Homo sapiens: one gene and its partners. The protein of the gene in region 2 interacts with the protein of the main gene of each other region in a biochemical or structural test. Each region holds a gene or a part of one and is shown on either strand. Other genes may lie near its edges. The genes, in order: TOM1L1, TOLLIP, TLR4 and PEG10.

Region 1 (6,953 bases), on a different chromosome or scaffold from region 2:
ACCTTAGAAAAGCAGAATGTTAATAAAAGTGAAGCTACAATCTTATTTGGATTATAAAAGCTGTGATATGGAAAAGGACCAGACAGGAATATGGAAAAATTGAGTTAAGTATTTTCAGTGGAATTACAAGGTCATGGGTAAATTTTATTTCTATTAATGAAATACTAGCAATAAAGGGAAATGTGTTTTTTATAAATGGCTAAGCTGGAAATTGTGAGTTCGACTATCAGTGATAATAGTTGACTTATCTAGTGAACCTGCTTTTCCCAGACTCATTTTTGACCATGCCAGGTAACCAAGGGATTGCTGAAAAATAGGAATGACTTTAACAAATACAGGCTCATGACATCCCAAAAGTAGTCAGATTCTTGACACAGTTACAGCAATGGTCAGTTACCATATGTAAACTTGGCTCCAAATGGATTATAAATACTACATTGTTTTTAAACTTTTATCAAATAAATAGATCATCAACACCTAAAAGTATTGTTTAACATATTTGGTATCTTTTTCTAGACTACTGGACTTGGAGGATCAGCAGTTGCAGGTCATGCCTCAGACAAGATTGAAAACATGGTGCCTGTTAAAGATCGAATCATTAAAATTAGCTTTAATGCAGATGTGCATGCAAGTCTCCAGTGGAACTTTAGACCTCAGCAAACAGAAATATATGTAAGTGACTAACCAGTCATTAAAAGATTACTTTATTAATGTAAATTCCTTTCTTTCATCACTTAAACTGTCAGAGGACTAATTTTAACACTATGATTCTAATAAAACATGGCATTTTCCATTGTTCCAAATTGACTTTTACTATCATGTAACTTAAAAGTTAAAGTATAAATTCTGTTACATTAGGTGTAAAGCACTATTAAAAAGTAGTCTATGGGAATAAAAAAATTTATAGTAATGGAACCCGTCAGTATTTTGAAATTAAGTTTAGATGAGTGAAACAGTTGGGAGTAGCAGTAACCGTCAGGCTATATAGCTTCCTGACTTTTCCTCAGGCATAGAAGACATGGGAAAAATGTGGAAAAGCATTGGTTACAATGAGTAGTTTACTGGTTTATATCAAAAGTATCCCTGTCCTTCTAAAAGAAAACAAATTGAGGGCCTTTGAAATAATCAATAAGTAGTAAATAGTTATGTTATACTCCAGTGAGACTGAGACTATACCTAAACGCTTTCCTAAAATTTTAACCAACTGTAAGAAAGATTTTAACTGAAATCTCATTAATTGAGGATTAGCCAGAGTGAGTTAATTTCAACCCATATTGGAAAAGCCTTATAAATATTAGTGCTTGCCCAGTTTAGTAAACATGACTGAATCTCTTAATAAAGATTTTATAGGTTATGATTATGAATCTTCTCCAATTACGTGGTAGTATACAAAGGTATTAGTGGCTGAATTGGTACAAGTGACAGAATATCCTTTGGAAAATTTTTTTAAGCCTCGCTATTCCCTTATTTTCTCCAAAGTATTAACACTTTGTGGCATAATAAAGGTTCTAGTCAGTCAGTTTTATTCTGATTTTAAGGTAAGTTTAATGTTGGTATCTTTTTAAAAAAAATAGTCAATCATGACATTCAGGTATAAGTGTTACAGAAAAGTTGGGCTAGGGCTGTGATATGATTGGCTTGGACACATTTTAAATAATGTAATTTGCCGATTATTCCTTGAAGACCTCAAATATACAAGAGGACAGTTCATAACTAATTATGGATATTAGAACATTGGTTCTTCATTGACATATGCAAGTAAGTTTTTAAACTCAGATATGTTTATGGGTAATATTCACAATTTATTTTGCTGAACCCTACATTAGATTAGGTATTATGGTCTGATGAATAGGCAAAATAATGAGACTAATTTAGCAGGGAAAAGAGGAACTTTGTGAGATTCAAAGTATTGATAATATATATATTCTTTAAAACAGGTGGTGCCAGGAGAGACTGCACTGGCGTTTTACAGAGCTAAGAATCCTACTGACAAACCAGTAATTGGAATTTCTACATACAATATTGTTCCATTTGAAGCTGGACAGTATTTCAATAAAATACAGGTACATCAAAGTGTAAACTTTACAGAATATGATAAAGATACATGAAACGGTTTAGTATGAAACTTAGTGTTTTAGTAGATCTTGTGATTTCTGAAAACGAATTTCTTCTAAACATCAAGCTATTTTTCTTCACTATCTATACCTGCTATGCAGAGATTGAGAACCAAACCAAATGGATATCTGCTTTTAAGATTAGAATTTGTTCTTCATCCTTAAAGCAGAACTCATTGAGATGAAAAGATGCTCTTAATTTATCACAGAACTGTGTATTTAATAGTATGCTTATTAAAATCACGAAGTGTACTGGAATGCTAAGATAAAAGAACTGTATAGTTTCTGTTATGTAATACGAGAATAGAAATGTTATTAAAATCTTTCTATAATTTCCAGTGCTTCTGTTTTGAAGAACAAAGGCTTAATCCCCAAGAGGAAGTAGATATGCCAGTGTTTTTCTACATTGATCCTGAATTTGCTGAAGATCCAAGAATGATTAAAGTTGATCTTATCACTCTTTCTTACACTTTTTTTGAAGCAAAGGAAGGGCACAAGTTGCCAGTTCCAGGATATAATTGAAGTCAGCAACTAAGTCTTCCTTCAAAGTTGTGATTTTTGGGAAAATCATATATCCTATCTTCTCAAAGGAGAAATATTGTACAATAATATGAAGGCTTATATTTTAAATAATTATTTTTTCTCAACTAATTTTTTTCACTTAAACTTGAGAGAACAAGTTCAGCTTTTATCATAAGAAACTCATATGCCTAGCTAGAATATATGACTGACTATTCAATACCATACTGAAGAGTTTGATACTATTAAAATAAGCCGCTTTGTTTTTTAAATATGCAGGCATGGGTTCAGCTTAATTCCATAATTCCCTTCCAGATTATTAACTCTTCATACTTACAGCAATGAATCTGACAATGTTTTTCAAAAATGTATGCTCAGGGTTATTTGTTTCAAGTCATAGGCCAGAACTTCTAACCATGTTTATTGTGTCTAAAAGAGTTGGTTGCTATTTTCCTTCATTATGAATAGTCAGTATTTTAAAAGCTCAAAGTAGAAGAGGAGTCACTAAGCCCTAACAGCTTGTCCAAAGATTTAAATTCTTATTTCAAATTTGATTTGTCCTTTAAGGTTTAGGGCTATTTTATATTCAGAGTTCTGAATAATTACTTTGAAACTGTAGTATCATAAAATTGAAATAAAATACATCTACTAGGCTGTTAGCCAAAGCATCACCATTACAAGTCCATGAATGTTAAAATGTACAGGTGGGATTGTGAAGATTTACTGACATCAAAAGTTCTTCTGGAAACAAACCTTTGTTAAAAAAAAAAAGTATTAAATTGTTTTAATAGTGATTTATTTGTCATCAAATGTACAACTTATTCTAAATATTTTCATTTTCTGTGTTCTAAATAGAAATATTAAGTTGCAGTAAAAAGAGAAAAAAAGGCTATTTAGCATTACAAAGAATCATATTTAAAGGCTGCCCAATGTAGAGTCTAGTGACCTGTTCAGGACACCTGAAATATAATTAAATGACAATTATCAAGGTTTTAACAATTTATAATTCTAAACCAGAGGATTATAAAGAAGTGCAAATTGACTTTTACATTCAACTTTAGTTAAATGAAGGCACTCAGTATTCTTCCTGAATAATACATTCAGTTTCTCACATTTTATGCTTTCATCTATTCAGAATTATTTCATAGTAAAATAATCTACTCTTATCACAGCTGTGTGACGATTTCTAAATGTAGGAAGGCCTGTGAAACATGACACTGCAGTTAAATTGGTTGGCCTAAGGACTAAGTAATTTTTCTTCTGCTGAAGTTTTAAGTGAGTATTTGTTCCAAACAAGTTCTGTTGAAATCTCACGCTGTTGTCAGGAATCAGTGTTATCCTGGAACTGTTATTCTATTTAATCTTCATTATAGCAGAAATGTGCCACCATGGCTTTGACATGTTGGTAGGTATTGTCTTCCAGGCTTCAAAGCTGCACAGAGTCTACGTTTTAGAGAGTTGGCACCTTTGATGTGGTAGTGAGCTGATCATCCACTTTCTTCTAAAATAAAGAGAAGAAAATGGCCAGTATTCATCCTGTCCTTCTCTTTCCCCATTCCTTGATAACTCTCTTGTCTTTACTGGGAAGCTGGAGAGTCACAGTCTAGTAGAAGAAAGGTAAGAATGTGCTTCTTCCATAGGGGAGGGTATAAGGGGAATAAATAAGTTTTGATAGTTCATTGGTGACCATTAAATAGTAAATACATGGGATTAGTAGTGCTGAAAATAGGAAAAATTCAGACCTATTTGGAGGACTAACGGTAAATGGGTCTACTGGTACCGGTTAACAAGTATTAACTGCATATGAAAAACAAATGCCTGATTTCAGTGCTACTCCTATTGCTCATCTATTTTGTTAGCATTAATATTTCTATACCATAAACTACTGTATTCCCAAGCCTTACTATTTACAGATGAGAAAATCACAAAGAATGACTCTCATTAGTGAACAATGGTTCAGCACAATTTGAATGATTCAGGGGAACTCATATTTCAAAGTGTCAGACTCAGATGGCCCTTAGAAAATTTAAATACTAAATATGTAAAGTGATAATTATACTGAAATTATATGGAATATGGAATTAAGTTGTATAAGTTGAAGTCTTTACCTCAGTCACCATCATTTTGAGCTCCTTTGTGCTGGTGAGCATCAATTTCTTCATAAATAGCTCTGAAACAAAGCCATCACAGCAAAAGGGTTATGTATCAATTTCAAAGTGCTATTTTGGTTTTTAACTGCCAGCACTGTAATTAAAAATTGAGCTGGTTTTGGAGTTCAGGCTACATATGAGTAAAAATAAGTCTCTGCCCTGAAGTGTGTATTCTAGTTTATTTAAATTCTAATGTTGCACTTCATTTTTTCTTTTTTTTTGAGACAGAGTCTCACTCTTTTGTCCAGGCTGGAGTGCAATGGTGCTTTCTTGGCTCACTGCAACCTCTGCCTCCCAGGTTCAAGTGATTCTCCTGCCTCAGCCCCACGAGTAGCTGGGATTACAGGGACACACAACCATGCCCAGCTAATTTTTTTGTATTTTAAGTAGAGACAGGGTTTCACCCTGTTGGCCAGGCTGGTTTCAAACTCCTGACCTCAGGTGATCCACCCGCCTCGGCCTCCCAAAGTGCTGGGATTACAGGTGTGAGCCACCACACCCGGCCTTATTGTTGCAATTCCTATGTCTCTTAAAAGTATGTATTTCATAGAACCAATTAATTTTTTCTTGTGATTGAAATGAGAAATATGACTCAAATTTGGACAGTTTATGTTTTGCTTAAAAAACTCCTCAGTTTCTTCTGGTTTCAAACTTTTTAAAAAAATATTAGGACAAGTGCAGTGGCTCACACCTATAATCCCAGCACTCTGGGAGGCTGAGGTGGGTGGATCGCTTGAGTCCAGGATTTCAAGACCAGTATGAACAACATGGCAAAATACCATCTCTACAAAAAACATAAAAATTATCATGTGTGGTGGTACACACCTGTAGTCCCAGGTACTCAGGAAGCTGAGGTCGGAGGATCACTGGAGCCTAGGAGGCGGAGATTGCAGTGAGCTGAGATCGTGCCACTGCACTCCAGCCTGGGCTACAGAGCAAGACTTTCGTCTCAAAAAAAAAAAAAAAAAATTAATCTTCCAGCTTATTTAAACTATGTGATTACAGTCCAGACTCCTCAGCCATCTATAGCTCATCACTGTCATTTCTGTACTTTTTTTATATTGTATTTTTTCAATGACATCCTTCATTCGTTTTTCTTTTTTCTTTTTTTTGAGACAGGGTCACTGTCACCCAGGCTGGAGTGCAGTGGTGCAATCATGGCTTATTGCAGCTTCGACCTCCCAGGTTCAAGTGATCCTTCCACTTCAGCCTCTCAAAATGTTGGGATTAGAGGCATAAGCCACCATGCCAGGCCCATTCAATTCTTTATATGCGTCTTACATATGTCTGTAGCTGGAAAATATACCTGAAAGCACAACATTCATATATACAGTATAGCAAAACATGGCTGAGGAAAAATCTCAAAAATCACAGCGCTATGAAACCATGATCACCAAGTTCATAAGGCCCCAGAATGGTGCTACAATTTTAATGTTTCCCTAAAAAGTTTGGTCTCATCTCCCTCAAAACGATTTCAGTCTTCTTCACTCTCCTCAAACCTCTAAACTCTCTGGTAGAAACTGCATTCTTAATACATTAAATGTCTTGATATGGAAACTTCCTCATTTTCCCATCACTAAATCTTCAAGTTTATCTTCATTTGTATTGTCCATTATTTCTGTGATCCTGTCTATTCCTGGCTTCTGAAGCACTTGACCCATTCAGTTATTCTTCCCTTCCTGAGTCTTCAACCTCTCCTTCTATGCCAGATCCTATTCTTCAACATTCACAGATTCTCCAGCATCTCCCATGTCTCCCATTTTATACAAAGTACAGCCTTTAATTCCATCTCTTCTTGTAGTAAATGCCTTAGTATCCTCTAGCTACCAACAACCCCTTTTTTTTTTTTTTTTTTGAGATGGAGTTTCACTCTTGTTGCCCACGCTAGAGTGCAATAGTGGGATCTCAGCTCACTGCAGCCTCTACCTCCTGGGTTCAAACGATTCTCCTATTCATCCTCCCGAATAGTTGGAATTACAGACACCCGCTACCACGCCTGGCTAATTTTTGTATTTTTAGTAGAGACAGGGTTTTGCCATGTTGGCCAGGCTGGTCTCAAACTCCTGACTTCAGGCGATCCGCCTGCCTTGGCCTCTCAAAGTGCTGGGATTATAGGCGTGAGCCACCGTGCCCGGCCCCAAACCTGTTTTCATCACTGCTTCATATTTAA
Region 2 (7,848 bases):
GGAAAGCAGCCACGTGGCGTCTGAATTATGTGCAGCAGGTGTCCTCACTCTCACCTAGAGCGAGGATGCACCTCTCCCGGGTCATCATGCTCCGGGGGCAGGTTCACACTCCATGTCATGCTCTGGCTCTCAGCTCTGTCCCGGGACCTCCTCCTCTTTCCCTCCTCAGCCACTTCTGAGGAGGGCATTAGAGAGTGCGCCCTTCATGGTGGGTGAGTGGCGGCCTCAGCTGTGTCTGTGAGCGTCGTAGGTTTCTGCTGTCAAGGACGAGCCACGTGCTTTGTCTCAGAACTGCACGATCCATCTGTGGCTCACTCTTCTTGCTCCTGGCCTCCTGGGAAGCAGGTCACAGCCGTGTTCAGGCGACTCTGAGTGGCTGTAGTCTATGTGTTAGGAAAAGGCCTCGTGGAAGGGTTCAGGGAGGCAGACGGCCTAGAGAACCCACCCTCTCCTGATGGTTGGCACCTCCTTTTCCTGACATTGGCTTCATTCCAGGCAAAGTTGGCCAAGAATTACGGCATGACCCGCATGGACCCCTACTGCCGACTGCGCCTGGGCTACGCGGTGTACGAGACGCCCACGGCACACAATGGCGCCAAGAATCCCCGCTGGAATAAGGTCATCCACTGCACGGTGCCCCCAGGCGTGGACTCTTTCTATCTCGAGATCTTCGATGAGGTGAGAGGGACGTGCCAGCTATTATGGAGGCTGCACGTGGCTGAGCGTGGCTGCCGTGGGGACACACCTGCCAACACAGCCACGTTCCTGGCTGGCTTCGAGGCGTGGCTCCCCACCTGGTGTTTCATTGGGTGCATGACAGGGTCCTGCTCTCCCCAAGGAATGTGAAAAAGGGATTGTTTCCAGCTCCTTGAACATACTTACATTTGGAAACATCCCCAGTGACAAGCATGACCCAGGGATACAGCGTGCACGTGTCCCCTCCGCTGGGCGCACAGGGTCTGGCCGCTCACCAGCAGGTGGGATTTCCAGGGACAGAGCGTGCACGTGTCCCCTCCGCTGGGCACTGATCTGGCCGCTCACCAGCAGGTGGGATTTCCAGGGACAGAGCATGCATGTGTCCCCCGCCACTGGGCACTCGTCTGGCCGCTCACCAGCAGGTGGGATTTCCAGGGACAGAGCATGCATGTGTCCGCCCCGCTGGGCGCACAGGGTCTTGCCGCACACCAGCAGGTGGGATTTCCAGGGACAGAGTGTGCACGTGTCCACTGGGCACTCGTCTGGCCGCTCACCAGCAGGTGGGATTTCCAGGGACAGAGCGTGCATGTGTCCGCCCCGCTGGGCGCACAGGGTCCGGCCGCTCACCAGCAGGTGGGATTTCCAGAGAGTGCGGCTGCCTACTGGGTGGGAAAGCTGTTCTTGGTGGTGCGAATGGTCGTGACCCTTGAGGGTCCTGAGTCCCGTCCGTGGCTGCACCTGCAGCGCTTCTGAGGCAGAGTCAGAAGGTCAGAGGGGATGTGGCGAGGCTGCTGCTCAGTGTGGTCCTGGCACCTCGCACCTGTGGCATTGTGAGGCTAGAGACTGGGTGGGGGCCGGGGAGCAGTGTGGGGCAGCCAGGCCAGCAGACGGCCAGCCCTCCCTGCCTGGGCCCTGCCTTTTCCTCCCGGCTTTTCTCTCCCCGTCCCTACCTGCTTTCCCCTCCCTGGCCCTCAGAAGAGTAGAGAGCGCATGGGAAGTGCAGAGTCAGCTGTGGGAGGCAGACCCCGTGTCCTTTCCAGTCTGCACCCCGGCTGCTCTGGGGCTTGACAGGTGGCAGCCGGTGGAGCAAGGATGGGGCCCCGAGGGCTGGGGAGGAGCAGCCAGTGTCCCTGAAGTGGAACTGAAGGAGGACAGCAGCCCAGGGCCCTCGCTTTCCCCAGCCCCAGACCTGGCCCTGGCCCTGGCCCTGGCCCATCCTGGTGGAGAGAGGGAAGAAGTCCCCTACGGAGGCTGATATACGATCGTGAAGCCTGCGCTGCCCGAGGGGTCTCATCGATGGGGTGTTGGTGCAGGTGGGAGCCCTGTTCCACAGATAAGACGGGGACTCGAGGCGGGCCCACGATGGTGCGGCTGCAGGGGCAGGGTGGCCCCTTCCCTGATGCCTGGGGCCTCTCCCTCTTGTCTCCCGCAGAGAGCCTTCTCCATGGACGACCGCATTGCCTGGACCCACATCACCATCCCGGAGTCCCTGAGGCAGGGCAAGGTGGAGGACAAGTGGTACAGCCTGAGCGGGAGGCAGGGGGACGACAAGGAGGGCATGATCAACCTCGTCATGTCCTACGCGGTGAGCTGCACGCCTGGGCGGGGTGGGGCGCATTGGGGTATGTTGGAGCACGTCGGGGCTATGCCGCCCCACAGACACCCTTGTCTCTTTCCTGGAGGCACTGAGCCCATAAAACAGCAGGGCTCACGTTCTGAGGACAGAGGGCAGGGGCCCTGGGTGGTTTGGTGGCAGAGAGGGGCTGCCCTGCCCACTGCTCCTGCCCATGTTCTCTGTCTGGGGAAACAGCATAGGGGTTGTTTGTGTTCCTAAGATGAGCCAACCCTTTGTGGTGGTCTCCACTGCAGGCCCCTGTGTCCTCGGAGGACCCCCACAGCCCTTCCAAGCTCTGCCCTTAGGGTCCAGCTGAGCAGCCCTCCAGGGTCTGAGATACAGCCCTGGGCCCTGCAGGACACCAGGCTCCTCCCCACAGGGCAGGCATTGGCCGTGGTGTGGCAGGGCATCTCTGGAGATGTCGGGGAAGCCTGGGGGCTGCTGTGCTCAGGGTCAGGAAGTCGAGGCCTGGCTGTGGGGCCAGCACGTCAGCGCCCTGGCTCCCAGCCATCTCCATTCTCAGGGCACCTGCAGCTCCTGGGGGCATCAGGAGGGCCAGTTAGAGGCTCCAAGACGCAGAGCTCCTGCCGTCTCGTCTGTATCATCAACCAGAGGATTTTCAGGCTGTTACTGAAAAATGGTGCTGTGGGAAATGCCAGGCAGATGTGACAGCAGAGAGGGTGCAGCAGAGAGGGTGCAGCAGGGAGGGTGCAGCAGGGAGGCTGCAGCAGAGAGGGTGCGGCAGGGAGGCTGCGGCGGGGAGGGTGCGGCGGGGAGGCTGCGGCGGGGAGGCTGCGGCAGGGAGGGTGCGGCGGGGAGGCTGCGGCGGGGAGGGTGCGGCGGGGAGGCTGCGGCGGGGAGGCTGCGGCAGAGAGGGTGCAGCGGGGAGGCTGCGGCGGGGAGGCTGCGGCGGGGAGGGTGCGGCGGGGAGGCTGCGGCGGGGAGGGTGCGGCGGGGAGGCTGCGGCGGGGAGGCTGCGGCGGGGAGGGTGCGGCGGGGAGGCTGCGGCGGGGAGGGTGCGGCGGGGAGGCTGCGGCGGGGAGGCTGCGGCGGTGAGGCTGCGGCGGGGAGGCTGCGGCGGGGAGGCTGCGGCGGGGAGGGTGCGGCGGGGAGGGTGCGGCGGGGAGGCTGCGGCGGGGAGGGTGCGGCGGGGAGGCTGCGGCGGGGAGGGTGCGGCGGGGAGGCTGCGGCGGGGAGGCAGCAGCAGGGAGCTGCTTTTCTGGGCCATCTTGGCTCCTCCCACCCCCTTTTTGTTAAAGCTGGGATATTTTAAATCATGTCCCGGCCGTGAGTGACGATGTGTAAATGTCTCATGACACGTCTTTAACAGACGCTTTCATACAAACACAGAACCATCATGACGCTCCAGTGATTTTACCTGCAGTTGACAGTTTCGAACTCAGAGACGACAGTGGTGCAGTGACTTATCCGCAGTTGACAGTTTCGAACTCAGAAGACAGCGGTGCAGTGACTTATCCACAGCTGACAGTTTTGAACTCAGAGACGGCAGCGGTGCAGTGACTTATCCGCAGCTGACAGTTTTGAACTCAGAGGCGACAGTGGTGCAGTGACTTATCCGCAGCTGACAGTTTCGAACTCAGAGACAACCGCGGTGCAGTGACTTATCCACAGTTGACAGTTTTGAACTCAGAGACAACAGCAGTGCAGTGACTTATCCGCAGTGGACAGTTTTGAACTCAGGAGACAGCAGTGCAGTGACTTATCTGCAGTGGACAGTTTTGAACTAAACTCAGAGACGACAGCAGTGCAGTGACTTATCCACGGTTGACAGTTTTGAACTCAGAGACAACAGCAGTGCAATGACTTATCCGCAGTGGACAGTTTTGAACTCAGGAGACAGCAGTGCAGTGACTTATCCACAGTGGACAGTTTTGAACTAAACTTAGAGATGACAGCGGTGCAGTGACTTATCCACAGTTGACAGTTTTGAACTCAGGAGACAGCAGTGCAGTGACTTATCCGCAGTGGACAGTTTTGAACTAAACTCAGAGACGACAGCGGTGCAGTGACTTATCCGCAGTTGACAGTTTTGAACTCAGAGGTGACAGTGGTGCAGTGACTTATCCACAGTGGACAGTTTTGAACTCAGAGTTGACAGCAGTGCAGTGACTTATGTGAAGTTGACACTTTCAAACTCAGACACCACAGCAGTGCAGTGTGGTTCCCCCCAGGCCGACTCGACACCTACACTGGGATGTCCCTCCTGTCACCATCCTCTCTCAGTCACATCCCAGTTAGAAGGGGGTCTGTAAGCCCGAGCCATGTCACCTCCTGGATTTGAGGAGGTGGTGCAGGGGTGGGAGCAGGGCCCAGCGTCCCCTGTGCACTCAGGGCTCGTGTAGCGAGGGTGATTCTGGGCTGGCATGGGGAGGGCGATTCTGGGCTGGCGTGGGGAGGGCAATTGTGGGGAGGGCGATTCCCGAGGTTCTGATGGGTGGATGTTCCTCCTTGACCCCGGGACCATCTCCGCTGTGTTTCAGCTGCTTCCAGCTGCCATGGTGATGCCACCCCAGCCCGTGGTCCTGATGCCAACAGTGTACCAGCAGGGCGTTGGCTATGTGCCCATCACAGGTGCGTGTGCTCCCTCCCTGGGTGCCTCTCCCCTGGTAGAAACCCCAGGGCCTAGGGCAGGTGCGGGAGGAGGGAACGGGGCTTAGAGCGCCGGGGTGGGGACGTCATCCATTCTAGAATCCTGTAGACGTGCTGACCGCACACAGATCCTTTCAGGCCAGGAAGCCAAGGCTTACGTTTGAATTTTGTTTGCATATCTAGAAAATAGAATTGTTTTTTTTTTTTTTTTCTAATTGTTGGCAGAAATGAGGTGAGTTGAAATTTTCAGAGATGTGGAAATGTGGCTTTGAAACCCCGTTGTGCCCAGCTCTGTGCAGGAGAACCTCACGCCCCTGTCAGGTGACACGTGCTCTGCACTGTGCCGTCGTGTCCGAACCTCACGCCCATTGGGTGACGCGTGCCCTGCGCTGCGCCGTTGTGTCTGAACCTCACGCTCCTGTTGGGTGATGCGTGCTCTCTACTGCGCTGTTGCGTCTGTTGTCGTGTGTCACTGTTAGGAGTGAGCAGCCTGTGGCTGCAGCAACACCAAGCTGGGATGTCGCTTTTCATGCTGTTGCATTTTCGGTCCAGCTGTGACTGTGGTAGCTGCTGGTGCAAGACCGGCCCCCACCATGGATGGGCCCAGCCGTCTTTAGCAGGCGGGGAGACCGCAGCCCCTGAGAGGAGGTGCTAGGGGGGAGCCTGTGGTCACCCTGGTTCTCCTGCTGAGGTGGCCTCTCTCGTTCTGGGGAGCTGGTGTCCAGGCAGAGCACTGGTCCCTCTGCACGGAGGGTGGAGGCCAGAGGCCCAGGCCATGGAAGTGGCCAAGTTGCGGGCAGGGCGCTAGGGATGCGTGGTGGTGTTGGGGGAGGTGGTGTTAGGGGAGGGTCTCGGGGCTGCATGAGGCCCCGGCTGCTTGTGCTCAGGGGCTGCTTTGGGGTTGGGGCGGGACAGAGCTGCTGGCAGGCGAGAGTGCTGTGAGGCCAGTGCTGGTGTCCAGCCCAGCTGGAGTGGAGAGGCCTGGTCAGCACCCCAGTCCTGCCAGCATCCTGCACAGATGCAGAAAGGCCACCTTGGGAGTCGGGACCTCGCCCTAGACCCACCTGATGTGGCCTGAAACCCAGCCCTGACGATGGGAAGGAGGAGACGGCACTGGGAGACTCTGGGCTGTCCACTGGTGTTCAGGACATTCTCGGACAAAACTGCCTGTGAGAACAGCATGGCCTCGCCCTCACTTGCTCACATTATAGACTCTGTTTCCATGTGAAGCCGCCCGCGCAGGTGCCAGGGCTGCCTTTCTCCAGAGGAAAGAGCAGAGCGTGTGTCTGAGAGGGCCTCTGTGGTGTCCAGTGTCTTAGAAAACCACCAGCCTGGGGGTGGGTGTGGGGGCTCATGCCTCTAATCCCGGCACCTTGGGAGGCCAAGGCGGGCAGATCGTGAGGTCAGGAGATCAAGACCATCCTGGCCAACACGGTGAAACCCCGTCTCTACTAAAAATACAAACAAATTAGCCGGGCGCGGTGGTGGGCGCCTGTAGTCCCAGCTGCTCGGGAGGCTGAGGCAGGAGAATGGTGTGAACCCAGGAGGTGGAGCTTGCAGTGAGCCGAGATTGCGCCACTGCACTCCAGCCTGGGTGACAGAGCAAGACTCCATCTCAAAAAAAAAAAGAAAACCACCAGCCCAGCAGAGGTAGCACCTGCACCCCGTCACCGAGGAAAGAATGCTTCCTAGGAGGTGACCACAGGTGAGCCAGAAACGCAGAAGCAGCCTTGAGGCGTTCAGAGTTAGAGGAGGGTGGGCATCTGGGTAAGTGGAAGAGCCAGCACCTTGGCAGAGAAACGGGGGCGAGCATGGGAGCCCCACAGCTGTTCCTGAGCCTGGAGCCTGGCCAGGGGAGCTCTGCTGCCCTGGGGGCCCTGATGCGCCCTGGCTGCCCCCCAGAGTGGCTCCTGGAGGTTCTGATTTGTAACTGGGACAGCCCAGAGCCGCCGTCGTGGGGTCAAAGTGCCTTCTGTGATGTGCAGTTCATGGGGCTAGTGAAGTTCTGTCTGGTTGTCCTGAGTTGGAGGCCAATGGCCAACCTGAAAGAACAGAGACCCAGGCCCTCCAGCTTCCTGAGGCTGGAAGTCGAAGCCCCGTAGGCAGGGCCACTCACTCGTCAAGGCTGTGAGGAGGATCCTCCCCGTCTCCTCCAACTTCTGGGCCGGGCGCTCTGTGGCTGTCTTTTTGGGGGGTGCAGTTCCATCAACTGGATACAGCGCCAGGGTGTATCTGGCTGAAAGAGCATTCAGATGACAGATAACATTGATTGGCTTACCTCTTTCTGGTTCCTATCCCTAATTCTCTTTGTAGATGCCTTTCAAGTTTGCTCTAAAACGTTTATTTTAGGAAAGGCTAGACAAACTTTGAAATTTTCTTTTGATAGACATTGTAAATTTTGGAACAGCCCCGCACTTCATAGAAAAGTTCCCAAGGAGATGCAGGAACATCTGCCAGAGCCTGTGAGGACTCGTCCACCTGACGCCCCACCGGAGCCCCCAGCCCCCATGCCCAGGCATGCGTTTCCAATAAGCAGGGGCGTCCCTGGCACAGTACGGCCATCTAGATGAAGCTGACACTGACGCGTTGGGGCTGTACCCTGCTTGGAGCCCGTCTGAGTCCGCAGCATCCAGGCCGGGGTCACTGGCCCTCCATGGCCTTGCCTCCCTTGGCCTGGAGGGGTCCCCATCTTGCTCCTAGGGTATGTTCTGGTCAGGGACCTGGTGGGGCTGCTGACGTGGCCTTGCAGGGTAGGGCTGAGTTTCCCCGGGGCTGCTGGCAGGGCCCCCGCATTTTACCCAGGCAGATGCCACCACCGCAGATTCCACCCAGCGCAGGTTTACCCAGTGCAGGGCTAGTGGTGTGACTTGCTCGTCCCTCACGGCGGGCTCTGCCTGGCTGTTCCCCGGGAACTAAAATATGTCCTG
Region 3 (7,848 bases), on a different chromosome or scaffold from region 2:
CCAACCATCTGGAAAGTCCTAAGCTTTTGGAACTTCCCCCATAACCTCTGTGTTTAATCACAAGTCTGTGATGCCCGTCAGGAAGTCAGACCAACTGTAGACATGATAGAGCAACCCTAGGCATGTTGTTCAAAGAAAGGCCATCATCTAGTGGGCCTGATTTGTTCACTGTTAAAAAATCTTTGATCACATAACTTAGATCACATTTTTCCTGGCTCTTACAGCTGTAATATAAATAAAAACAAGTAATAATAATAATACTTCTCTTTGTTTAATATCAGTCAAAATTATAATGGTGAGATAGGAAGTTTTATGCATTTTGTGAGAGCAGGGTGCTCTTGCCATAGAACAGTATTTAGAAGCCCTGCTTCTGCGGTGAAGTGGACTTAGATCCTAATCTCAGTGCTGCCACCAATGAGCAGGTGACAGTGGACACATGACAGAATGACTCCCAGACTCAGACTCCTCATTTGTAAATTGGAAATACTTTCGTATCTTTCTAATTCATTGATGTGACAAACTGAGATAGCACAAATAAAGCCCTTGCATAAAACAATTGATCAATTAAATGTAACTATTGTAACTATCAACATTATCATTTTAACCAAGTGAGGTCTGCCAACAAGGTATTATTACCTCCATTTCATGAATTAAGACCTGAGCCTCAAAGCACTTGAATGACTTGCCCACAATCACACAAGTAAATGGAGACACTGGCTTAGACTTTGGTTTTCACTCTCCCAGGGAGTTCACTGTCACATATTGTGTGAGTTCATTTAAGCTTCTCCAGGAGCCTGCTGATGATTTCTAAAAAGTTTATAGAGTCCAGAAGAAGACTGGGGTCTGACAATCCCGTGAGTAGAGAATGAATCAGAAAGAAATGTCTAATTTTAGTTACAGTCACTTCTGTGGTTCCACAGGCTGGAAAAATAGCAATTACTTTAGTGTTGTTACTGAGAAGACCTCCCAGTGCTTCTCCTAGTGCCCTCTTAATAAAGTCTTAGGGGAGTACTCACCCATAAGGACAGTGTCCCCGTATTGAACATAATACATGATTTTCAATCCTTAGAGCAACCTTACAAAGTCATAGTTCTATTCTTATTTTACATTGGAGCTAAGTAGACTCTCAGAGAAATGGAGCCCAAGGCACACAGTTGATAAGGAGTGAATTTGAGTTTTGGCTTTCTCCAAAAGCCACGCTACTCAAAACACCAGAAAAATGGAAAGCACTGTATTAACGCTCATTCTCGGTGTCTTTCTCTCCTCTTTTTATTCTATGTCCAGATTTTCTACTTATTATTGATTAACCCTATTGTTCACATATCCTTTGTTTGAAGCTCCTTCAAGTCCTTTATGGAAAGATAGGGTTATAAATAAATCATTTGGTATGTATAACATATATGCATATGTATTGGCTTAATGATTCATGGCTTCAACTGAGAAACCCTTGCTAGTGTCAACCACACAGAAAACTGCAGGAGTTTCACTTCCTGTTTTGCCAACTTTAAGCATGAAGCAATTGGGTGTGGAAGAAAGAAAGTGTCCTTGAGTGACCTGGAGGCCCAGGCTCAGGTTTTGTCACTTTCCTACTCTGTGGGCTATTGAAAAATTTACTTCATTGAACTTCAGCTTTCCCATCAATAAAATGGAAAAAGTTAATTATGATTTGCTACCTTACTCAGCTAATGAGATATTCAAATATATAGTTTTGTGAATATGTTTCAAGTTGTAAGGTATCACACAAATTTAAGGCATTACAATTGGCATTAATTTATCCTTATTCCACCCTTTATCCCTCTTAAATCCAGAGGATTTAAAGAGCTAAAAAGAGGCTGGCTGAGGCCTGACTTTACTCTTTCTTCTCCTTCTGTTCTATGCATATAATTTCTTTCCCTGCTTGTCCACCTCACCTGCCATTTCTAGAATTTCCATCTGGGAGAGGGAACTGATAGGAAGGAGGCCAATGTCAGCCTTGAATATTTCGGCCTTGAAATATTCCAAGTTGTATGTTGATCTTCCTTCTCAGAGCCTTGTACATTTGCTTGAATAAACACACTTATGCAGAATTCATATTCAAATATGAATAGAACCACACTTACATGTAGCACGGATATACACAAAATCATACATTTTCAAGCATACTAAGAAACTGAGGCATACATCTGTAGATAAACAATCATGTATGTATGTTAGTTCCTCACTTATCCACAGTTTCACTTTCCCAGGTTTCATGGTCAGTTATGGTCTGAAAATAGGTGAGTACAGTACAGTAAGATATTTTGAGAGAGAGAAAGAAAGAGATCACATTCACATAACTTTTATTACAATATATTATTATAACTATTCAATTTTATTGTTAGTTATTGTTAATCTCTTACTGTGCCTAATTCAGAAGATGAACTTTATCTTAGGTATTTATGTATAGGAAAAAATATTGCATATATGAGGTTTGGTACCATCTGCGGTCTCAGAGATCCACTTGGGGTCTAAGAACGTATCCACCAAGCATAAGGGATAAGGGGAGACTACTGTACAAGCACAAGAGTAGAGAACTCATCTCAAACAGCCATAGACATCCATTTCAAATGGATGTATTCTTCAAGAAATATAATCACACTCTCTTCTATACAGATATGATCATGCGGACACACACACTTTCAAATACACACAGCCCTGATAGGGATACATAGGGATATGTGCACAAATGCACACATCTACTTTCACTAGTACATGAGACATGGAAACACACCCAGGGATGTTCAATCACCCTAGACCTGCTCAAACCAAACACACTCTGAAACACTCAGTAACAAACACTTCTGACTGTGGTCATATTTCCAGTTTTGACAACTGAATTTTGTTGTCTTTTCTTTTTTATAGCTTCATTCAGACATAATTGATATTATAAAACTGCATATATTTAATGTATACAATTTGATGAGTTTAGACATAGTCACATACCTGTCAAACCATCACCACAATCAAGGTAATAAATATATCCATCACCTCCAAAAGCTTCCTTGTGTATATGTATATGGTAAGAACACTTAACATGAGAGGTACCCTCTTAACAAAATGTTAAGTGCATAATACAGTATTGTTCATTATACGAACTCTGCTATACAGCTGATCTTTAGAGCTAATTCATCTTGCATACTATAATTTTATACCAATTAGACAACTCCCTATTTCCTCATTTCTCCCTTCCTCCTTTTCCCTAGGAACCACTGTTCTATTCTCTGCTTCTATGAGTTTGACTATTTTAGAACCTCATATAAATGAAATCAGGCAGTATTTGTCTTTCTGTTACTTGCTCATTTTACATAGCATAATGGCCTCCGGGTTTATTCATGTTGTCATAAATAACAGGATTCCCCCTTTTTTTAGGCTGAATAATATCCCATTGTACGTATATGCACATTTTCTTTGTCCATTTATTTTTCAATGGAAATTTGGGTTGTTTCCATAACTTTGGAAACAGTGATTGTGAAGAGTGCCACAATGAACATGGGAGTGTAAATATTTTCTTGAAATTCTGATTTCAATTATTTTGGGTATATATACAGAAGTGAGATTGCTGGATCATATAGCAGTTCTATTTTTAATTTTTGAGAAACCTCCGTACTGTTTTTCATAACGGCTACACCATTTTCCATTCCCTCCAGCAGTGAAGAAGGGTTCCAATTTCTCTATATCCTTGATGACACTTCATTTTTTTATAGTAGCCATTCTACCTGGTATAAGGTGATATCTCATTGTGGTTTTTATTTTCATTTCCCTGATGACATCCTGATTGTCCTTTTCTTGAATGTTCTGTTTCTGAGGAGGCTGGATGAACATTCTTTTCTGGGAACCTTCTTTATAAGAACCCCATTAATTCCAGACACATTGTTTTCTCAATGATAACATCCACTCTTCCCAAAATGTGGTCAAGGAGCATTGCCCAACAGGAAACAGCAATGTATACTCCCTGCCTTGAATACCTTCACACGTAGTTCTCCTGGCAGTGAGAAGGGTACAGGGGAGGGATCCCAGCCATCTGTGTCTCCCTAAAGAGATTCAGAGGTCCATCAAACATCACTTGTTCTGAAAAAAATAAACTTCTGCTGCAACTCATTTCATGAGGTCACCCCGGGTTTATCAGCCCATATGTTTCTGGAATCAAGAAAAGGTGACCTCCTGAGGTCATCCCACTTCCTTCCTGCCTCTAGCCCAAATTGTCCATGATAAGACCAGGAAGCGGAAATTTTCTTCCCGTTTAAAAGAGTGCCCCCTTTAAACAAATTATTTCAATGCTGCTTTCATGACAGTCATTACTTAGTAGGCAATAACTTTGGAATGACATCGAGTGACAAAGTGACAGAGTGTACTTTTCCATACTTCCTTGAAAAATAGTGGTTAATATGGATATTTGAAGCACGTCTTAAACAACCTTATTTATGATATTAGCTTATAGGCAAGACGTAAAAAAATGAAAACTGGATATATAAAAATAAAAATATATCAGGGGTGATTAGTTAAAAAATAGAACATGCTCGAGAATGACCAGGATGGTTGTGAGCATGTGTTAATCAGGTTTCCTTAGGAATTAGCCACTAGACTTTAACCTCTGTAAGGAGACAGACTTAAAATGGAAGGGGCATCTTGCATCAGGAGCCCCTTGACGACTGCAGTCATCAAGTAGAATTTAAATTGTATTCAATCAAAAAGGAAAAAGTGAACACCCAGTTCAGTCAAAACTACCAAAATGGTTTTATGATGGCTATAACATAATACAATTTCCATTCAAAAGACTCAGGAAAAGAACAATGTCTCTTTCTGTTTTCTCTGTCTTTATTCAACTTGATGAGGTAAGAGTTGAAATGACTTTCTTTGTCATGGGTTCCTTGACTGAGTTGGTTGAAATGCCCACCTGGAAGACTCTGTATTTTAGTCTAGCATTTATTCCCTCTGCACTGGAAGCTCCTTGAGATTAGCAGCCCTGCATATCTAGTGCACCATGGAATTACTCACCCTTAGCATAAGGCCTGACATGTGGCAGCATTTAATACTTATTAACTGAACAAGTGTTGGACCCAGCTGGGCAAGAAATGCCTCAGGAGGTTTTTATTTTTCCTCTTCAGATAGATGTTGCTTCCTGCCAATTGCATCCTGTACCCACTGTTCCTTCTGGATTCCATGATTTACCATCCAGCAGGGCTTTTCTGAGTCGTCTCCAGAAGATGTGCCGCCCCAGGACACTGTCCTCCCACTCCAGGTAAGTGTTCCTGCTGAGAAGGCGGTACAGCTCCACCTGCTGCCTGAGCAGGGTCTTCTCCACCTTCTGCAGGACAATGAAGATGATACCAGCACGACTGCTCAGAAACTGCCAGGTCTGAGCAATCTCATATTCAAAGATACACCAGCGGCTCTGGATGAAGTGCTGGGACACCACAACAATCACCTTTCGGCTTTTATGGAAACCTTCATGGATGATGTTGGCAGCAATGGCCACACCGGGAATAAAGTCTCTGTAGTGAAGGCAGAGCTGAAATGGAGGCACCCCTTCTTCTAAATTCTTTACTAGCTCATTCCTTACCCAGTCCTCATCCTGGCTTGAGTAGATAACAAAGGCATCATAGATGTTTTCACCTCTACCATACTTTATGCAGCCAGCAAGAAGCATCAGGTGAAAATAGAACTTATAGACCAGAACTGCTACAACAGATACTACAAGCACACTGAGGACCGACACACCAATGATGGTCTTATTCATCTGACAGGTGATATTCAAACTCAGCACAGGCATGCCCTGCTTATCTGAAGGTGTTGCACATTCCATTCGTTCAACTTCCACCAAGAGCTGCCTCTGGTCCTTGATCCATTGCAGGAAACTCTGGTGTTCACAAGTACAAGCAAAGTCATTCTGAGTAAGATTTAAGAAAGCTAGACTACTTGGAAAATGCTGTAGTTCCTGTTTTTTGGAAGTCATTATGTGATTGAGACTGTAATCAAGAACCTGGAGGGAGTTCAGACACTTATAAGGAAACGTATCCAATGAAAAGAAGTTGTTGTGGCTCATATTTAGTACCTGAAGACTGGAGAGTGAGTTAAATGCTGTTGGAGACAACTGCTCCAGTTGACACTGAGAGAGGTCCAGGAAGGTCAAGTTTCTCAGCTCTGTGAAGATATCTGGAAGGAAGTTTTCCTGGAAAGAATTGCCAGCCATTTTCAAGACTTCGAGACTGGACAAGCCATTGAAGATGCCATTGAAAGCAACTCTGGTGTGAGTATGAGAAATGTCAAGGTAAATGAGGTTTCTGAGTGATAGGAATACTGAAAACTCACTCATTTGTTTCAAATTGGAATGCTGGAAATCCAGATGTTCTAGTTGTTCTAAGCCCAAGAAGTTTGAACTCATGGTAATAACACCATTGAAGCTCAGATCTAAATACTTTAGGCTGGTTGTCCCAAAATCACTTTGAGAACAGCAACCTTTGAAACTCAAGCCATTTCTACTGAGATCTAGAAACTCAAGGCTTGGTAGATCAACTTCTGAAAAAGCATTCCCACCTTTGTTGGAAGTGAAAGTAAGCCTTTTGAGAGATTTGAGTTTCAATGTGGGAAACTGTCCAAATTTACAGTTAACTAATTCTAAATGTTGCCATCCGAAATTATAAGAAAAGTCTTTTACCCTTTCAATAGTCACACTCACCAGGGAAAATGAAGAAACATTTGTCAAACAATTAAATAAGTCAATAATATCATCGAGGTAGTAGTCTAAGTATGCTAATCGGAATTCTTCAATGGTCAAATTGCACAGGCCCTCTAGAGCAGATTTGTCAAACTTTTCCAAGTTTCCTTCATTTCTAAATTCTCCCAGAACCAAACGATGGACTTCTAAACCAGCCAGACCTTGAATACAAGTTTTCATTACATTTAAACTATCAAAATTATTTCTTAAAGTCAGCTTATGAAGCCTAATTTCTTTAAATGCACCTGGTTGGATAAAGTTCATAGGGTTCAGGGACAGGTCTAAAGAGAGATTGAGTAGGGGCATTTGATGTAGAACCCGCAAGTCTGTGCAATAAATACTTTGAATCTTGTTGCTGGAAAGGTCCAAGTGCTCTAGATTGGTCAGATTAGAAAAATACTCAGGTAATTTGAAAGATTGGATAAGATTGTGAGCCACATTAAGTTCTTTCAAAGTTTTGAGATGTCCAATGGGGAAGTTCTCTAGAGATGCTAGATTTGTCTCCACAGCCACCAGCTTCTGTAAACTTGATAGTCCAGAAAAGGCTCCCAGGGCTAAACTCTGGATGGGGTTTCCTGTCAATATTAAGGTAGAGAGGTGGCTTAGGCTCTGATATGCCCCATCTTCAATTGTCTGGATTTCACACCTACAGGAATAAAAAGACATTGATTATCTAATATTTCTGCTGAATAAGAACCTAAAATAGAATATTAATCCTAGTCATCCAGCTCTTCATACAGATGTGATGGGTCATATGATTGTGCATAGGCAAAGACATCAAGCAGGACAGATGATGATGGAATAAGCAAATAAGAAGCCCCACAGACTGAGTATTATCATACTGGCTGCAATGATAGGCTCTTTTTTGTCATGTTAGGCATACATGATAAGCAGAGGAGAAAATCCATAAGAAGGAAATCAGTTAAAGATCAATAATTGACATATATAAAGATTGTGCAGTTGATAAAGCATGTAATAGCCTTGGATCAAGTTTAGCCATTTTCTGTCACACAAAATTGTGATTATACATCTGATTGGTACAGATAATATGGATAGTTGTTAGTTGGTAGCCAAGATAAATGACTGGTAAATATCAATTTCAGAGATACGAAAAA
Region 4 (7,848 bases), on a different chromosome or scaffold from region 2:
GCCGTTTCAGAGAGGATGTGCCTCAGGTGGCCTGAAGATACAGTAGCCTAAAATTTAGCACACAGTCACTGATTGAGAAGCTGAACAGGAATAAATTTTGAGGGCAGAGATCCTGAAGGACATGACAGGTATTTACAGGGTACTGTAAGATGGAGGCGGCGGCGGTGGTGGTGGTGGAGGCGGCGGCTGTGGCGGCGGGTACTGTGGTACCGGAGGCTGGCGGTACCAGTGTGGATTCCAAGTGATCATCACAGGTACATATAGTGATCTTCCTTGTCCGTCTCGTCCCACTGGGTACCAGGCGAATCCTACTGGGTAGGTCGGGTACGCGGCATATGTGGGGTATGTTTGGTATCCAGGTATTTGAGGTACGAATTCAGTGTACGTTGCCAGGTGTGCTTGGTCTTCTAAATTTGGAATAGATAGGCGAGGATACTGATTCTGGATAGTAAAATTGTTTGGAGCTCGGCAATCATAAGAAACTTGCAGTTTCCACCCCCTCTTCACCTGGAGAACTTGGGCTCCATTAGGTGCAATCGTTGGAGTAATTAGCCCATCTTTTACATTTCTTGCCACAAAATCTCGAAGAGCTGCCATTTCAGGTTCGGACAGTGAATACACATGTCCACTGGGAATACTGTGTGCTCCAGGTATCATTTCTATGTGAGGGTCAACCAGGCGGTGATCTGGGTAGACGTGCTCATCTACTGGAGTGTACACATTCTGGACATAGTAATACCTCACTGGTTGGTAAACTCTGTATCCATCTACTGGATAATAGAGTGGCGGTTGTGGTGCTGGTGGTGGGAGCGATGGTGGTATTGGAGAATACATCCGGCAGTGGTAGCGGCAGTATTCAGAATCAAAGACGATAGATCGAGTGCTCCATGTGATATTGGGATCATGTGTGCTCAGCCAGCGAACCCCTAGGACGACAGGGAAGAATGGAGACTGAGTCACATCAAATGACAGCACCTCTCGGTGATCTCCCAGGTCAACTATCAGGTCGTGAGTTTCGTGGACAACTGGGCCCGATGCTATGGGGCGCCCATCAATTGCTTCCACAAGTATTGGCCAGTCCTTGATTCTTAGAGGAATTCCATTTTGAGCAACATATTCGTGATCAATGAAGTTGCCAGAAGCACCAGAATCGATCATGGCTCGGACGAACAGGGTGTGTCTGCCCGGAAGATGAATCTGGAGCATCACTTGCAAGTGTGGAGATGAGGCATCATCTTGTGGGGACCTTATTATTTCTGGCCCGGTCGCTGAAGGTCCCTCTACAGCGGGGCCGGGGAGTTTCCCGCCGGCGAAGACTTTGAGGCCTTGGCAGGACAATTGTCAGCGTAGTGACCTCCTGTTCCACAGTAGAGGCACAGGTTCAGCTTTCTGCGTCTTTCTTTTTCTTCCTGCGTCAGGCGCATGCGGGCACCTCCCACCGGCTCGGTTGGATCTACCTGGTGGTGGCTTGCAATGTGAGGCAACACCAGCGCCCGGGGTGGCGAGCGTGGCTTGCGAGCTGCAGCAGCCCTGGCCAGCCTTCTCTCAATGTGAATGCACTGCCCAATCAGAGCAGACAGCGACTTGGCGACCTCGAGGTGGGAGAGCTCCTCCTGAATGTGGTCGCTGAGGCCCTCGTGGTACTGGTCAATCAGCGCAGGCTCGTTCCAATCCAGGTCCTGGGCAATCATCTGGAAAGCATTGGAGTAGTCGATGACAGACCCCATGCCTTGGCGCAGGCGTCTGATCTTGCGTTTGGCAACCTCTCGCCTCTGAGGGTCTTCAAAGACATGCTTCATTTCCATCATGAAAGCTGGGTAGTTGTGCATCAGGTAGTGGGAGCGCTCCAGCTTTGCTGAGGCCCAACGGGCAGCACGGCCGGTCATCATGCTTGTCACGAAGCAGACACGGACACGATCAACTGAGAAATCCCTGGTGCTCTTTTCCATGAAGATCTGGCACTGGGCCATGAAAGGAGCCAGCATGTCTGGGTTGCCATCGAACTTCTCTGGGAGGTCTTCTGGGCACTCTTCCTCTATTGGAGGGGGTGGGGCAGCAGCTGCTGCAGCACCGCGGAGCTCGATGTCATCATCCTCATCCTCAGGGGTGGGTTCCACTTGCTCTCGAAGGGTGGTGTTCTCCTCTGTGAGCTTCTGCACCTGGCTCTGCAGGTTGTTGTTCTCCTCCGACTGCTTCATGACCTTCTCTCTTAAGTTGTTGATCTCTTCAGAGAGCTCGTCCCTTCTTCGTTCGGTCATGTTGGGGACACACGCACTCTTATGGCCGGTGTGCTTGGAGTTGTTGTTGTTGTTGTTGTTGGGGGGAGGGGGAGGAGGAGGAGGTGGGCAGTCGGGACCCAGGGTGACGGTTGGGGTGGGAGGAGACCTCCCAGCTGTAGCTTCACTTCTGTGGGGATGGAGGCCTGGATCCTGGCCCCCTCTTCCACTCCTTCTTTTTTTTGTTTTCAAAACCCGCTTATTTCTGTAAATAAAGATAAATGTATGTATAAATCCAACTTATACATTCAAAGCAGCAAAAGCAGACACAAAGGATTTGGTATTTAAATTATCCCTTGCTCTACGTGCTTACATTAATAATTAGTGAACAAAGAAAATAAACTCTCAAGAGAAAGTTAGTAATCAGCACCATATATAACAAAAAGCAAAGTACTTTTTGATGTTCAAATGACCTTGTCTTCCTCAAAGGCCACCTGTTCATTATGATTCAACAATACATTATCAACAGCATGCTTACCTTTATAAACTATAAAAGAATGTTGAAACCCTCTAAACAAGTAGTTTTGTATTCAAACACAGCAAGAAACTTCAAGGCAAACATGGATACAAAATCAATTATGCAAATTAAAGCCAAAATAATAACTTTTGTTATTAAAGAAGCCAGGCCAAAAATAGTTAATACTGCAACTAATAGAATCTCATTAAAGCAAGAAGGGAGTATTAAAATCACAATGCATGTATTCATCAGCCCTGTGGGCAGGAGGGTACTCTGGCCAACTGTCACAACCCTATTCCACTGCCACCGAGAAGGTAACTGGTTATCAAATCAAACAACCACCACCACAAAAACCACAGGACTGCCTAAATTACTTTTCTGACCATAATTTAAATCCCCAAAGAAAATTCTCTATGGGACAGAAATGGCACTAAGCAGCAATATGTGTATGTCAGTTTCCTTTGTCATTATGCAGTCATTCAAGAAATAATAATTGATGCCTCCTAGGAAAAGCTATAAAATGGGACATTCAAAGAAGCCCAATAATAGTATACCTCAAACTAATTATGAGGACTTAATTAAATAGTGCAGGTAAATTATGTAGTGAGTATTCAACAATGGTTAGCTGATATGAACAAAGTTATTAATTAGAAAATAGAAAGGTGACTATCTGTGTAAAAAGAGTGGGATTAAAAGAGGGAGGGGCTGCAACTATAGCAACATGGGCATGCATTTCCCACCTAAAGACATTTACTTTTTTAAAAATACTGTGTTGGTCAAACAAATTCAAGGCCTTATTTGTCTTGCAGTTTACCAGTTTGTAATCCATAGTTTTTAATGAAGATTTGTCAGCATAGCCCCAAATGAAGGTTTGTAATGTTAAGGTGGGACAGGGCTGCACTCCTAGGGGGTGAGTGGATGTGTGTGGGGAGGTGGGGGTAGGGTGTGTGTTTAAGCATTCTAATTATGAGTGTAATGACAATCACACACATAAAAATCCTGACACAGTGTCTGCCTGTGTACTTCCTGAAAATACAGTTAAATGCATTTAGAATGATTTAATTATTTTAAATTTTATTAATAATCTCAAGTCCCATATTTGGAAAATTTAAATATATAAAAAGTTTAAAACATAATATGTAAAAGTTTAAAAAAGTTTAAAAAACTTTGATTTAAAAAGTTTAAAACTTTTAAAGAAAGTTTATAAAACTTTTAAATAAACAAAAGTTTAAATACATAAGTTGGTCCTCTCTGGATACTCACTATGTGATTTACCTGCAAAAATGGACGCCAAATAAATTACATAGAATAAGGCCAAAAAGATACACAGTTGGTAATTAGAGAAGTTAGGTGAAAAATAGTTACTATTTTCAACCAATAGAGTACAAGAAAAAAAAAAAGTGGTAATTAAACATGATGCCCAGCCCCTGGCTGTAAAGAAATGCTCCTTCCTCTCCAACTCCTAAACTCTTTAGGTACCTCCCATGCCCCAATGTCACCACCCACAGATACTATCCCTGTGTCCTTTGCAGTTGGTGTAGCCTCTCCAAGGAGTGGCTATACAGCAAGCAGGGTCTTTAAGAGACAGGGAGTAGTGTGACATTTTAACAGTTTTAACCCCACTACTTAATTACTTTAGTAACTTAGGCTATAAAAACAACAAATAATTGACATTCAAGATAAAATATTCAAGTTTAGAAAAAATTAGAAAACACAATAAACACATCATAACCCGTGACATTCAGTATCATTTCCAACTCCTTAAAGACAATTGTATTGCTGACCCTGACAATATAACATCACAACATAATGCAATTTTTCCTTATTAAATTAGGAGTTTTCATGTCCCATTAATGAACAACTAATAACCATAAGTAAGGTGACTAAGGTACCACTTTTGTCATCTAGACATTAATATCTTCAAAACCTTGAGACAAGACTTCCTAAAGAGCATTCACAGCATGGCCTGGTGCAGCCTGACCACTTGTCAATCACGGCCACTAAGTGGGGCTTTATTGAAGCCCAGGTCTGATGGTTTTATTATCTGCAAAAAACAGTGATGGGACAGAAATAACAATACATTAGGAAATCAGCAAATAATTACTACATGGTTTAGGGAAATAAAAGATCAATAAGAGTTAAAAATTCAAATACCTTTGGTATATAAGGAAGGTAGTTGAAAAGTGAAAAGAGACCAGAGTTAAGATGGGAGGGGCTGCAACAATGGAACTTGGGGGTGCATGCCCTCCCCCTTACCACCCTCCCCACCCCTGCCCCCCTGCCACCAGACATTTCATTCTTTTTTATTTTTTAATTTAGTTCCTGGTCAAACAAATTCAAGGCCTACTTTAGCCTGCAAGGTCACTAGCTTAAGACTTCTGACCTTTGCCAATAACAAGCCTGAGGCCTTCATATGAGGGTTGGCAAGTTTAGGGTGGGACGTTAAAAGAGACAACTGCCCAGGGAACAGTAGTTTATCCATTAAAAGTAATAGGGTAATGGGCAGGCAGGTTAACAGTGCGTATAAAAATGTTTAAACAGCGACTGAGGCAGCACAAGTTAACCTGGGACAAGAAGCATGTTTACTTGATTTGAATTATAGAACTATGTATGGCTCCTTAAACTCCCCCTTAGTAGGGGCTGCATTGGAGGGGAGGGGTCAAGAGGTCTCATTCCTGAAAACTGAAAGGACAAACTGCATAAAGCCAAGTTGCCTAGGACAGATGCCATCTTTACATGATAATAATTTCAGTTTTAGTCTTTTTAGGAAATAAATACATTTGGTTAATTATTGACTCTTCACAATAGCTTGGAATAATTTCTATTCCACAAACACACCAAAGAGCAATAGTAGCCAAAAACCATAAATGAACATCCTGTTAGGAAATGACATCTCATTAAGCAACTCTTAGTTGCTTCATATTTTCAAATGTCCAATTTTTTAGTACTATCTTGTACTATTTATGAAATGCAAATTCTCTTAATATGCATGTTATTACTGTTGTTTTGAACCTCTTCAATATGCAAATATACAATATCCAAAGAGAAGGGAAAATTACTTAAAGCTGTAATTATGATAAGCACAAATTTTCCATAGATTGTGTACTTGTGGTGGGGAGGGGGTATGTGACAGAGATTTTTGGGAGCCAAAGCCCCCAATTCCTCCCCTACCAAAGTCCTGGCTCATGATTTGTAATATATGGAACCAGGTTTTAAAATTTCTTCATTCAGCTGGAAACACAATTCTTACATGGTACCTCTTACTAGCAATCAGTTATAAATTTGTTTTATACAGTTGTTTAATTTTGCAAGCTGAAACAACCTATATTTTGTAATGTGGCCACTTTATATTACATTACACAAACTTTAATACAATATGTACCATTAATAATACACTTGCCCCAAATTTAAATTAGCTTTTTATGAAAAAAGCTAATTATTTGGAATAACTAGCTTTTTATGAAAAAAGCTAATTATTTGGAATAACTAGCTTTTTATGAAAAAAGCTAATTATTTGGAATAACTAGCTTTTTATGAAAAAAGCTAATTATTTGGAATAACTAGCTTTTTATGAAAAAAGCTAATTATTTGGAATAACTAGCTTTTTATGAAAAAAGCTAATTATTTGGAATAACTAGCTTTTCATGAAAAAAGCTAATATTTGGAATAACTAGCTTTTTATGAAAAAAGCTAATTATTTGGAATAATTAAAATTAATTTAGTTGCTTTGTATTATAATTACAGCTTATATCATTGGAGTTTAAAAACACATACACTTTTTTTTTATTCTGTTAAATGTGAGAGATAACGCAAACAAGGCAACCCAGGACAGCAAAGCACCATAGGAAAGGAGCAAATCAGAAGAGACCTACAGACACCAAGCAAGACACTGAATAAACCAATTTACTCTGGTCATTTAACACATATTTAATGAATGCCTACCATGTGCAGGCACAATTTATTATACATAGGCAAATAGGCTAGGGTTAATCACCTAGAGATTCAAGGAAAACACCCAGCTTCATAGGCACGCAAATAAAAGCCTTATCCTCACTCAGAGGCCAAACCAACAGCACCAATTTTGTATCCACCAAAACATCCGATTCCCAAAGGTCCACTAGTGCCTCTAAAAAAACCTTAAATGTGAAAATATTTTTAAAGTTTTTAAAAATAAATTGTTAAGTTTTGGTTTTCATTTGCAGTAAAAACATTTGGCTAAATTGCCTTTAGAGGCACCAGCCATGTCAGTTTACAAGGTCCCTTCATAAGCCACTATCAGGAGTTTAAATTGTGGGATTATGTTATTGAATATATGCAAAGAACATATTAAAAGTGCTCATAAATTCCAGTTATAATTATTATTGTTAATTGTTTTATTTATTATTCTATTAGACTCTAGTAGCCAAAAAGCAAAACCAACACAGCAGAGAAACCGCAGGGGGGCGGGGCTGTACAGCCAGGGCTCAGGCAAGGAAGGTGCGCAGGTGCAGAGGACCGGCGCCTGAAGGGAGGGGCTGAGGGTTCACACTGCGCATGTGTGCTAGCCGGCTCTGAGGGAGGTGGGACTATAGGCCAGCCCGGCAGAGGCAGGCTTAGGGAGGGGCCAAGCCTTGGAGAGGCGGGGCCTGAGCAGGCTACCTAAGAGGAGGCGGGCCTGGGGAGGTGGGATCTGGGTGAGCTCACATCAGAGGAGGCGGGCCCAGGAGAGGCGGGGCCTGGGCAGTTCACCTCAGAGGAGGCGGGCCCAGGAGAGGCGGGGCCTGGGCAGTTCACCTCAGAGGAGGCGGGCCCAGGAGAGGTGGGGTCTGGGCAGTTCACCTCAGAGGAGGCGGGCCCAGGAGAGGCGGGGCCTGGGCAGTTCACCTCAGAGGAGGCGGGCCCAGGAGAGGTGGGGCCTGGGCAGTTCACCTCAGAGGGGGCGGCCCCGGGAGAGGCGGGGCCTGGACAGTTCACCTCAGAGTAGGTGGGCCCGGGAGAGGCAGGGCCTGGGCAGCTCACCACAGAAAAGGCGGGCCTGGAAGAGGCGGGGCCTGAGCAGCTCACCTCAGAATGAGGTGGCCAGAGAGAGGTGGGGCCTGGGCAGGCAGGCGCTAAGGAGCTGGGAGGAGGGGCCTG

What was found.
Region 1: the proteins of TOLLIP (region 2) and TOM1L1 form a complex in vitro, tested with the Homo sapiens proteins (one study listed by BioGRID).
Region 3: the proteins of TOLLIP (region 2) and TLR4 form a complex in vitro, tested with the Homo sapiens proteins (one study listed by BioGRID).
Region 4: the proteins of TOLLIP (region 2) and PEG10 form a complex in vitro, tested with the Homo sapiens proteins (one study listed by BioGRID).

Annotation. Positions count from the first base shown.
Region 1 is NC_000017.11:54,958,416-54,965,368, reverse strand, and holds the end of TOM1L1 (TOM1-like protein 1), read right to left. Parts: exon of another isoform or gene 4,804-6,953; coding exon 4,743-4,803; 3' UTR 4,742-4,742; exon of another isoform or gene 4,135-4,741; 3' UTR 4,105-4,134; coding exon of another isoform or gene 4,043-4,104; 3' UTR 3,413-4,042; downstream 1-3,412. Other genes in the region: COX11 (cytochrome c oxidase assembly protein COX11, mitochondrial), read left to right, coding at 517-672, 1,938-2,063, 2,454-2,636. UniProt on the Homo sapiens protein: Probable adapter protein involved in signaling pathways. Interacts with the SH2 and SH3 domains of various signaling proteins when it is phosphorylated. May promote FYN activation, possibly by disrupting intramolecular SH3-dependent interactions.
Region 2 is NC_000011.10:1,283,057-1,290,904, reverse strand, and holds part of TOLLIP (toll-interacting protein), read left to right. Parts: intron 1-495; coding exon 496-678; intron 679-1,585; exon of another isoform or gene 1,586-2,009; intron 2,010-2,128; coding exon 2,129-2,281; intron 2,282-4,812; coding exon 4,813-4,903; intron 4,904-7,307; coding exon of another isoform or gene 7,308-7,387; exon of another isoform or gene 7,388-7,848. UniProt on the Homo sapiens protein: Component of the signaling pathway of IL-1 and Toll-like receptors. Inhibits cell activation by microbial products. Recruits IRAK1 to the IL-1 receptor complex. Inhibits IRAK1 phosphorylation and kinase activity.
Region 3 is NC_000009.12:117,711,920-117,719,767, reverse strand, and holds part of TLR4 (toll-like receptor 4 isoform A precursor), read right to left. Parts: intron 7,380-7,848; coding exon 5,120-7,379; 3' UTR 1-5,119.
Region 4 is NC_000007.14:94,657,967-94,665,814, reverse strand, and holds part of PEG10 (retrotransposon-derived protein PEG10), read right to left. Parts: intron 2,482-7,848; coding exon 1,281-2,481; coding exon of another isoform or gene 133-1,280; 3' UTR 1-132.